Linked DNA regions of Homo sapiens. The protein of the gene in region 2 interacts with the protein of the main gene of each other region in a biochemical or structural test. Each region holds a gene or a part of one and is shown on either strand. Other genes may lie near its edges. The genes, in order: RALGDS and RAPGEF2.

The links.
Region 1: the proteins of RAPGEF2 (region 2) and RALGDS form a complex in vitro, tested with the Homo sapiens proteins (one study listed by BioGRID).

Annotation. Positions count from the first base shown.
Region 1 is NC_000009.12:133,118,175-133,125,870, reverse strand, and holds the start of RALGDS (ral guanine nucleotide dissociation stimulator), read left to right. Parts: upstream 1-4,630; 5' UTR 4,631-4,716; coding exon 4,717-4,899; intron 4,900-7,696. UniProt on the Homo sapiens protein: Functions as a guanine nucleotide exchange factor (GEF) activating either RalA or RalB GTPases and plays an important role in intracellular transport. Interacts and acts as an effector molecule for R-Ras, H-Ras, K-Ras, and Rap.
Region 2 is NC_000004.12:159,358,001-159,360,887, reverse strand, and holds the end of RAPGEF2 (rap guanine nucleotide exchange factor 2), read right to left. Parts: intron 2,775-2,887; coding exon 2,749-2,774; 3' UTR 715-2,748; downstream 1-714. UniProt on the Homo sapiens protein: Functions as a guanine nucleotide exchange factor (GEF), which activates Rap and Ras family of small GTPases by exchanging bound GDP for free GTP in a cAMP-dependent manner.

The DNA.
Region 1 (7,696 bases), on a different chromosome or scaffold from region 2:
TAATACAGGAAACGGTGAGCCTGGCAGGAGTCACTGCCCGGGGTCAGAAGTTTGTAGCCCTCTCTGGAGGACTGCTGGGAGCCTCAGAGGCATCAGAGGGTGAGTCTCAAGCTGTGTCCTTTTTCTTCTTTTTTTGAGACGGAGTCTTGCTTTGTCGCCCAGGCTGGAGTGCGGTGGTGCAATCTCGGCTCACTGCAACCTCCACCTCCCAGGTTCAAGCGATTCTCCTGCCTCAGCCTCCCAAGTAGCTGGGATTACAGGCACGCGTCACCATGCCAGGCTAATTTTTTTGTATTTTTAGTAGAGATGAGGTTTTACCACGTTGGCCAGGCTGGTCTTGAACTCCTGACCTCAAGTGATCCACCCAGCTCAACCTCCCAAAGTGCTGGAATTACAGGCGTGAGCCACTGCGTCTGGCCATTTTTCTTCTTATAACTTTTATTATGGATAATTCCAAATAGACACAAAAATAGAGAAAATGGCATAAAGACCCCCAGCTTTCACGACCATCGGTGCAGGGCCACTCTTGTTCACCTCTCACTGCCCCACTCCCTGCCCGCCCCTGGAGATGTTTACATGAATCCCAGGCATGTGATGCCATCCACAGATAGCCCAAGATGTAACTCTACTAGTGACGGCAACACCATTCTCACACCTAAAAAGATGTCTAATGTCATCCAATATGTAGCAGTGTTCAGACAATCCACATGTCTTATAGTTGTTTTTTTTAAACAGTTGTCTTGCTGACATCATGATCCAAAATCCACACATTGCATTTGTTAGACGTCTCTGACCCTTCTTTTAGTCTAGTTTCCCCTTTCTTTTTCCTCTGAAATGTATTTGTTGAAGAAACTGGGTTGTTTGTCCCATAGAGGTTCCCACAGCCTGGATTTGTGGATTGCACCCTTGTGGTGTGTTGAACATGTTTCTCTGTCCCCTGTAATCCCACAAATGGCAGTTATATGCAGAGGCCTGCCTTGATTTAGGTTTGGGTTTTGAGGAGAACACTGTGAGTGGTGCTGCGTTCCTCCACTGGTGACACACGCTGTCCCAGGATGGCCTTGCCCTTGGTTAGGGTGTCCCCACAGCTTACAGGAGGCCTCAGGAGAGGGTCTTGCATGCAGGAGGCGTCCCATGAATGCCAACCCCAGTTGCTAACAGTGTGAGGCAGAGTCAGGCCCGCCCGATCTGAGGGCATTGGGCAACACATCCTGTGCAGGGAACTTTATCTGTGCCTTCATTAGGGGGGCATGTGTATCTGTGTTTCTGTCTCTATGTGTGTGTATCTGTGTCTATGTCTCTATATCTGTGTGTGTGTGTCTGTGTCTATCTCAAACTTGTTTTTTCCCTTTTTGTGGAGAATGGGGTCTTGCTATGTTGCCCAGGCTGGTCTCCAATTTCTGGGCTCAAGAAATCCTGCCTCTGCCTCCCTAAGCTCTGGGTTACAGGCATGAGCCACCACACCCAGCCTCTGTGTCTGTCTCTATGTCTCTGAGTAGGTATGTCTCTGTCTGTGTGTCTCTATCTCTGCGTGTGTGTCTCTGTTCCAATGTCTCTGTGTGTGTGTCTCCGTCTCTAAATGTGTGTGCCTGTGTCTGTCTCTGTGCGTCTGTGTCTCTGTGTCTGTCTCTATGTGTGTGTGTGTGTGCCTGTGTCTCTGTCTCTATGTGTCTCTGTGGGTCTGTGTGTGTGTCTGTGTCTCTGTCTCTATGTATGTGTCTCTGTGTGTGTGTGTCTGTGTCTCTGTCTCTATGTGTGTGTCTGTGTGTGCATCTCTGTGTATCTTTGTGTCTGTGTGTGTGTGTGTCTGTGTCTCTGTCTCTCTGTGTGTCTCTGTGTGTGCATCTCTGTGTATCTTTGTGTCTCTGTGTGTGTGTGTGTGTCTGTGTCTCTGTCTCTATGTGTGTGTCTCTGTGTGTGCATCTCTGTGTATCTTTGTGTCTCTGTGTGTGTGTGTGTGTCTGTGTCTCTGTCTCTATGTGTGTGTCTCTGTGTGCATCTCTGTGTATCTTTGTGTGTCTGTGTGTGTGTGTGTGTGTCTGTGTCTCTGTCTCTCTGTGTGTGTCTCTGTGTGTGCATCTCTGTGTATCTTTGTGTCTCTGTGTGTGTGTGTGTGTCTGTGTCTCTGTCTCTATGTGTGTGTCTCTGTGTGTGCATCTCTGTGTATCTTTGTGTCTGTCTGTGTGTGTGTGTCTCATGTACAGCCAGAGCAGTGATCAGGCTTCCCAGAAGTTGGGAGGTGAGTCCCAAAGGTAGGGGAACAAGGCAGGAAGAGGAACTTTGTAAAAACAGACACCGGCCAGAGGGACTGGCTAAGTAACGCCCTCCCCCGCCCTGGCTCCTGTAGATGATATAGTCAGATGGGAGGGAGCCAGGCCAGCCGCGTTGGGGGGTTTAGTGTGATGAATTCTTTACTCTTCACCACTCCAGCCTCCTTGGGGCCACCCCTCGCCCCAGCACCCAGGACCTTCAAGGCCAGAATAGTGGTGATTCCTCTATGTCCTCATGAGTCACTTGTCCTTCTGGGCTATAAAACGGGTGGGCGCTTGTTCCCAGGCCCATCACTCAGCGAAGGAGATAAAGAGAGCAGAGGAGATAAAGTCAGTGGCAGGCAGCTTCTGGACTTTCAGTTTCCGGAGGCATTGGGAGCTTGGCCCCAGAAGAAAGGGATGGGAGGAGGAGCTTAGGGCCGAGGGCAGTGTCTCGGTCACCTCTTTGTGGCCCTGTGGGGACCTCCTGCCTCGAAATACGCCTCACCCACATTACCCTCCCTGGCCAAACGGCTTGGAGGCTTCCTAAACAGCCTCTAGGGATCTCCATCCCAAATCAAATCTACCCATCTTGCTTCTTAAAAAAAAAACAAAAACAGGCTGGGCGTAGTGCTCCTGCCTGTAATCCCAGCTCTTTGGGAGGCCGAGGCGAGCGGTTCACTTGAGGTCAGGAGTTCAAGATCAGCCTGGCCAACATGGTGAAACCCTGTCTCTACGAAAAATACAGAACTAGCTGGGCATGGTGGCAGGTGCCTATAATCCCAGCTCCTCGAGAGGCTGAGGCAGGAAAATCACTTGACCCCAAGAGGCGGAGGCCTTAGTGAGCCGAGATCACACCACTGCACTCCAGCCTGGGTGACAGTGAGACTGTCTCAAAAACAGCATTTATCACATAGAGCTGATTATTAAAATACTGATTTTAGAAATTAGAAATTCAGAGAAGTAAAATGAAAACCAGTAGAGCTTCCACCCAGCTGCAACTTACCACCATAATTTTTGTGAAGTAGGCCCTTCTAGTCGTGTGCACATGGGGGTCTTGTTCTGAACGGATGAACTGCCGCCTCACTCCAGTCACAGTGGAAGTGTTTCGTGGGTGTCTGAGGATTGGCACTTGGGAAGGGGGCAAGATGTGCTCGTGGAATGTGCTGTCTGGTCCCGCCCTCTCAGTTTACAGATGGAGAAACTGAGGCCCAATAGTACGGACCAGACCTGGGGAGGTTGGCATGGCCAGGGCTGCTGGCAGCAATTGCTGGCCTCCATGAAGACTGAAGGCTGAGGCCAGGGCAGGCCCAGTGATGAGTGAGGCATGAGGAAGGGTCCCATTCATTCATCCATTCTCCTGGCCCTGCTGTTAAGCCCCAGGCTGTCTTCCTTCCTCACTGGCTTCCAGAAAGAGTAGTTGAGGATGTCCCTGTCCCTGCTTCCCCTTCAGCCCCAGCAGCCCCACTTCCACCCTGAGACCAGGGATGTCCAAGCCACAAGCAGCCCCAGCTGACAGGCCACGCAGCCATGTGCTCTGCCCAGCGTTGTCACTCTTGATGCCTTCCTCCTTGTCAGATGCCTCTCAGCCCCAACCTTGGTGCCTTCCGCTCTCCCCCACCTCCCTGGCTTCCCCTCCTCTGAGGGTGTCTGTAAGGGGATAGTGTGGGGCTTTGCCCCAAAAAGGTAGGGCCCCACTCTCTGACCCTTTCCCCCACTGCACACACAGCCCCACACTCAGGATTTCCAATTGCACTGACAGGGTCACTGAACACATGGTCAGCCTCTCCAAACTCCGCCTGAGCCTGTAGTCAGGTGCAGGTGCTCAGTGCTGAGTGCTTCATGTCCATTACGTAATGTCATCCTCCCCGCAACTGTTTGAGGAAGTCATTTTCACTACCCAGATTTTCCAGATGAAGAAACAGTGAGGCTCAGAGGGGTTAAGCAACTTGTGGAAGGCCACAGAGTTGGGGAGAGGCTTTGCTGGAATTCGGGGTAGCTGACTCCAGGGCGGCTTCCCCACACATGATCAGCACGTACACATTTCAGCCCTACGCAACACACGCACTGCAGCAGCGTGACACGCAAACGGTGCCTAACCGGGGTACCCAAGGCCCCACGACACACGTGACAGCCGGTCCTCCGGGAGACCCAGCCAACGCGCACCCCTCGACCTCCCCGGCCCCGCCCTCTTTGTTCAGACCCCGCCCCTCCAGGCTCCCGGTCCCGCCCCGGGTCTGACCTCGGCGAGGGCGGGGCCGCGGGCGCGCGCACGCACGCGTCCCTCGGACTCTCCGGTTCCGCCCCTCCCCGGCCCCACCCTCTTCCCCTCCGGCCCCGCCCCCCAGCCTGACATCAGCAGGGCCGGGCCGCGGGCTCACAGCGGTGGCAAAGCCCAGCCGCGCGGGCCGCGCCGCCGCCCCCGCCGCGCGCCGGGCCGGCCCCGCGCCCGCGCTGCGAGCCTTCCATGGTGCAGCGCATGTGGGCCGAGGCGGCCGGGCCTGCTGGCGGCGCCGAGCCGCTGTTTCCGGGCTCCCGGCGGAGCCGCAGCGTGTGGGACGCCGTGCGCCTGGAGGTGGGCGTCCCCGACAGCTGCCCGGTGGTGCTGCACAGCTTCACGCAGCTAGACCCCGACCTGCCGCGCCCGGAGGTGGGTGAGCTGGGGCGGTCGGGCGGGGGGTGCGTCGGAGCCTCCCCACCCGCGGCAGAGCTGGGCAGGTCGGGGCGAGCCCCGGACGGGGCCGGGCGATCCCAGCGGGCCGCCTCCCTCCTCTCTCCTCCATAGGTGGGGGTCGGGGCCTTCTGCAGAAATCAGCCAGCAGGGTGGGCAGTGGGGGCTGCCGCCGCGCCCCGTCCAACAGTAGGGACCACGGCTGGGGTTTTGCGCCCCTCAATACCGTTCCAGGGCCTGCTGTCACCAAGGCCGCTGCAGCCCAGGTGGACCTTTTTCTGCGGCACTGTCCCTGTTTACATCGGTGGCCTGTGCCTTATTTCACTCAGTTCCCACCCAGGGCCCGCAGCGCGTCGTTAGCCTTTACGATGCAGGTGTGGAACAAGTGGTCGGGAAGGCCAAATCCTAGAATCCTCAGAGGTGATGAGACCATAGGGGCCTTCCAGACAGACCCTACTTGGGGCAGATGTGGATCTGGTGACCAGGGACATCGGGGCTGCTCAGAGCGGGGTGGGGGGGGGGTCGGGGGATGGGGTGGAGCAGCAGGCCTCCAACACGTGGGACCAGATGTCCTGGTGGTGAGGGGAGGAGGGTGGCCCAGGCCCAGGGCGGGCAAGACTTGTTTCTGCTTAACTGGAAAGAGTGCCAACACCCTGAATCGGTAAGGACTGGGTAGGATTCAGAGAAGGGAGTGGTGTACCTGTGATGGATGGAGGGGAGGGTGACTAGGTGAGGGCGGGGGCTTGTTTCTCGTGTGCCCTGGGTCTCTGGGTGGTGCCATCTGCCTCCCACCTGACTGCTGCTGACTACACAGCAGAGGGAGTGGAATCCAGAGATGCCCCCCTCGCCCTGCTCTGCCTGGGCACAGGGCCTGCACAGAGGCCATTCCTGGATCGGGGGCTCAGGGCCCATCAGAGCTTTGGCTGGGCTGCAGCCTTCACAGTGAACCTCCTGAGTCCCCGTGCGGCATCGTGTTGCCTTGCTGCGTCTCCAGTCGCTTCATGGCTTTAGACTGTGGCGCGTTGTGATTGCTGGCGATTGTTAGCCTGAGTCTCGTGCCTCTTGGTGTCCCGGTACCTAGACAGGGCCTGGATGCGACTTGTTTCTCCGCCCAGTGTTGGGCAGAGCTCTTGGTGGGGGAACACCACACGCCTGAGAGACCCTTTCCTCCTGAGCTTGGCAGATGGCCGGACCAGACGTGTTCCCTCAACCCTCATCTATCCAGGGCTCTGGTCCTCATTGGCGGCTGGAGAGGGACCCCTGGGAGGGTGGGGGTGGGAGGCTGACACCAGCCCAGCGCTCATCTGGCTTTCATTACCTCTGGCAGCAGCTCGGGCTTTGTGTGCTGGGAGGGTCCGGCGGAGCGCTCACAGTGGCCGTGCAGGTTCCCTCTCTCCGTCCCTGAGGAACTGAGGGAGAGGCAGAGCTGAGCCCCACCCCTGCCTGGGGGTCTTGTCTTCCCTCTCTCTGGCCCTGGCGCTCCTTGCCCAGCCTCAGCACTGAGATCCAGACCTCGACTGCTATTTAGAAATCAAAGGGGAAGCTTCTGGCTGGGTCAGGAAAACCAGGATCCTGGCAGGAGAGGAGGCCACTGCCGGAAACTGAACACAATGACCATTTACCAAGGGCCCAAGGGAGGGGGCGGGGAAGTCCCTGTCCCTCCTGCCAACACCCCCCGTCCTGGGGCTGGTTTCCTGGTGTCTATGTGGCCTGCCAGAGCTGACGCTGCGCACTTGGTCCCTGTCCTCTCTGGAAACCACCAGACAGTTTCTGCCTTCCCCCGCATCCCTGTTTCCCTACCTAGCTTCCACCCGGTGCTTCCCTCTGGGCTGCCAGATCTCCTCACATCTGGGCTTCCGCTTATCTTCCCGATTCTAAGCCAAGCCACCAATGACCCAGCTTGGCCTGCACAGTTCTTGCTTTCTGGAGGTGACCTGGTCCGTGCCCCCATCTCTGGACAGGCTGTTGCTTTGGCCAGACAAAAAGTGCAGGTTGTGGGCCACCCCCTCACTTCATCTGCCTTAGACCAACCCTACAGAGTAGGTGCCAACACCACCTTCTAGGAAGCTAGGGGGTCAGAGAAGGGAAGTCTCTGACCTAAACACCCGTGCAGCCAGCAAGGGCCGCAGCCAGGATTTAAGCATGGGCTGTGTTCTCTGTGGCACCTACTGTGTGCAGGAGCCACCAGGAGTCAGAGGAAGCCCAGGCAGCCCAGAAGCCCTGAGGTCAGGTGAGCAGTAGGGAAGCTTATGGCTCAGAGGAAGGCAAAAGTGCTTTGGGCCACAGGACGCTGGGGAGAGCTACCTGGAGGAAGCAAGCCCAGAACTGGACCCCACAGGTTTAAGATAACAGCTAATAAGAGCCAGCAGGTTTTGGGGAGGTCCTTGGCTAAGTAATTTGCATCATCTCCTTTTGGGGTCAAGACTGTTAAGAGCTCACTTGACAGATAAAGTCACTGAGGCAACAGAGGTGAATTAGATTGCACAGAGTGACCAAGCTGGTCAGTGGCAGGGCCAGGATTCTGACCCAAGGCCTGAGGGCAGTTGCAGGTGGGCTGGAGTGAAGAGGGCTTCTCTGTATTCACAGGGAGCATCTCCCTTCAGCCTCCCGCGTCTTCCCACTGTTTGATCTCTTGATCACACTGTGTGCAGGTCTTCGGTTTAATCCCCAGGGCTCATGAGCACTTTGACACTGAAGACCCCAAGGCAAAGGGCCTGTCCCTGTGTGGGTGTGTGTCCCTGCATGCATGTGTACAGACTGTGGTCTTCCAGGAGAG
Region 2 (2,887 bases):
CTAGCCCTGGCCATTTTCCTGTTAGCTTCTGGAGGGACCTTCCTCCCGCTCCTCTTCAGGCTCCCTCACATGTTCCAGTGTTTGGTGCCTCTGCTTCCAGTTGCTTCCACTCTGACTTCTGAGACTTCTCAGTGGCTGATGGCTAATACTTTTAGTTATGCTTGCTTGAGGAAAAGAAATGAGTCACTCATTTAAACATGTGCGTAAGCAGGCTGCTACTTACTGGTTTTTACCTTTTAAAATTAAGTGCCCTTCTGATAGACTAAAGTATTATTCAGACTTACCACACATCAGCACTCATATTGTGTACTAGTTAGAAGTCCAGAATCACTAGCTAAATTGTACTCTCCACTTAATAATCATGACCTTGAATGTCAGTTTCTCTGAGGTCCTGTCTCTCAGTATGTATACTGGGAACCAAAATATTACGTACCATAAAGATTATTGTTGGAAACGGTTGAGAAGAGACAAATGTTATGCAAATATATTGTGACAGCATCTTCATTTTCAAGAAACACTGAATTCTGAACATGGTTTGGCTGGTGCTAACGTTAATGATATTAATTGCTTTGGATCAACAGAGATCTGCCTAAAATAAATAGGCTATTGGGCAGTTTCCAATAACCATGAGGCTAAATCTCTCCAGCCGAAGGACTTGCTTCTGCAGGAGACGAAAGGCTTCTATTCCAATTTAATAATAAAAAGCATGCATGATTCATTAAGAATATAGGCAAGGCTTTATGTTATATTTATTTATTTTCCAGCTTGTACAAACTGGATGTAGAAGCATAAACATAGTACATTTCTACCATCTTCAACAAAAATATAACCAATATGTACAATTATTGTATTAAAAATACAAAAGGGATACAGACTCCACCAATGTCTTTCTAAAAGACATACAGGTACAAGTAGTATCAAAAGTATGAGGAAATCACCAGTTAATTGTACATTCTGCACTTGACATCACAGAGCGAACTGAGATTAGCAGTCCTATGTTCTACAATTACTTAATGCTTAGATAACATTTGTGCAACTTGTGGTAGAGCTAGATTTCTGTCTTTCTATATGCACATGAGGTCCATAGCCTATATAATAAAACTGGCAAATAATGCATATTACATGTAAAATTACAAATGCATAATTGACAATGTAATAAGCAAGTAGACAAATGCCATGATACAGAAGAGAATTATTAAATAAAGCACTGACATTGTTTGATACAGTGAAAAAACACTGCAATTCCACTTTTAAAATTTGAAGCTATTTACGTTTATCTACTGATCAATATGATCAGCTGAATTTAATGGAAAAAAAATCCAAGACCAGCAGTTCCTCACATTTGAGTACTACTCAGATTGGCAGCCTTCACTTTTCCGGAGTCTGTGCAAAACAACACAAAAATAGAGTGGAGGGGTCATTTCAGTCATTATAGGGTTAATAGCAGCTGTGAGCAGATGGTTGCTACACTTAGGCCTTCTCTATATGCAGCGTCCATAAAGCCACTTGGAGGTTAGTCTTTGGTGACTAACCTGCCTTGCAAAGGCTGGCATGTCTAACCAGGTTTTTGATCTTTTATCACGTTTAAAGGCTTGTTTATTCCCTAATGCCAATTCAATAAAGGGAGGCTGTCTTGAAAGAGCAGTATAAACAGCTGGCATTAGCTCCAACATCCCAAGCTGCTTTCACTGCAATGCTATCCAGTTATAAATGTTTCTCTTAAAAAAAAACAAAAAAACAAAAAACAAAACCTACACCTCTAAATTAACAAAAATCAAAGAAATATAACTTAAAAATGGGGTTTGCCATCCATCTCAATGGAGCAGGACACATCCGCCAATGACACCGTCCTGCCTCCATAAGGCTCAGACAGGACACAAGGGTCCTAGTTCCCTCCCCTGGCCATGTGCAAACAGTTTTACAGAAGAACCCCATCCACTGGGGAAGGAGCAGATGAGGTGTCTTGGTATTAATTGGCTAACATTTCATACTTCCAGGATAGGGCACTTCGCGGGTGAGACCAGAAGGACATGGGAAGCCAGGGTCACAAGCCAGGTCTTCCCGTCTTCTTGGTGTGGCCACACCCTGTCCGGCATATTTGGTTTTTCAGAAACCAGGCTGGCAACCCTACTTAAGGTTTAAAATAATACTGTAATCATTAAATGGATATATATTTACTCTCTGAACAAAATCTTTAAACTCATTTTTTTTTTTTAAAAGGAGGACATTGTAAACAAGTGGACAAGCACTGTACTCAAAGGATTTCATTGTTTTTCTTTGTCTTCCTTGGTGGGTTAAAGGCCCCAAGTAGTTCAATGGCTAGCTTTTCTCATTATCCCAATGAGATCAAGTGCTAGGACTGGATTGAAATCTAAAAGGAAGATTAAAAAAAATCCTTCCAGGCATTGAGAAGTGCAGCCAGAGTGAATCATCTTGTTGTGATGATCTTGGAATTTGGAATGATACTGTGTGATGTGGCAGGCAGCAACAGTGGGAGCTCGAAGATTGCTGCACTGTGCATTTCAAGCAACAAAGTCTGAAAAGTGCCAGGGCAATTTCTTCACAGTATTTCACATGCAAAGGGGAAAGGAAGAAGGGGAGAAGAAGCCCCATGCTGCTTTTAAGGCAGGGAAGGAGGCAAACTGGTCCACCGTCCTCAGAATGTGAGTTCCAAGGCTCCAATGCTCAGGACGTCTTCTTGTGCTCTCCTTTCAGGTGGCTCGCTCTGCTTCCAGAAAAGTCTGTGCCTCAAACAGCAGAAACTTGTTCATCTTCTGCAAATACAGCAGGGAAGAAAAAGAAATCAATGAGCAAGCAAGTAATTTCTTGTGCTATAGAGAATATATTCACTGATGTGCTAAATAAAACTATCATAGTTATTCTTTTT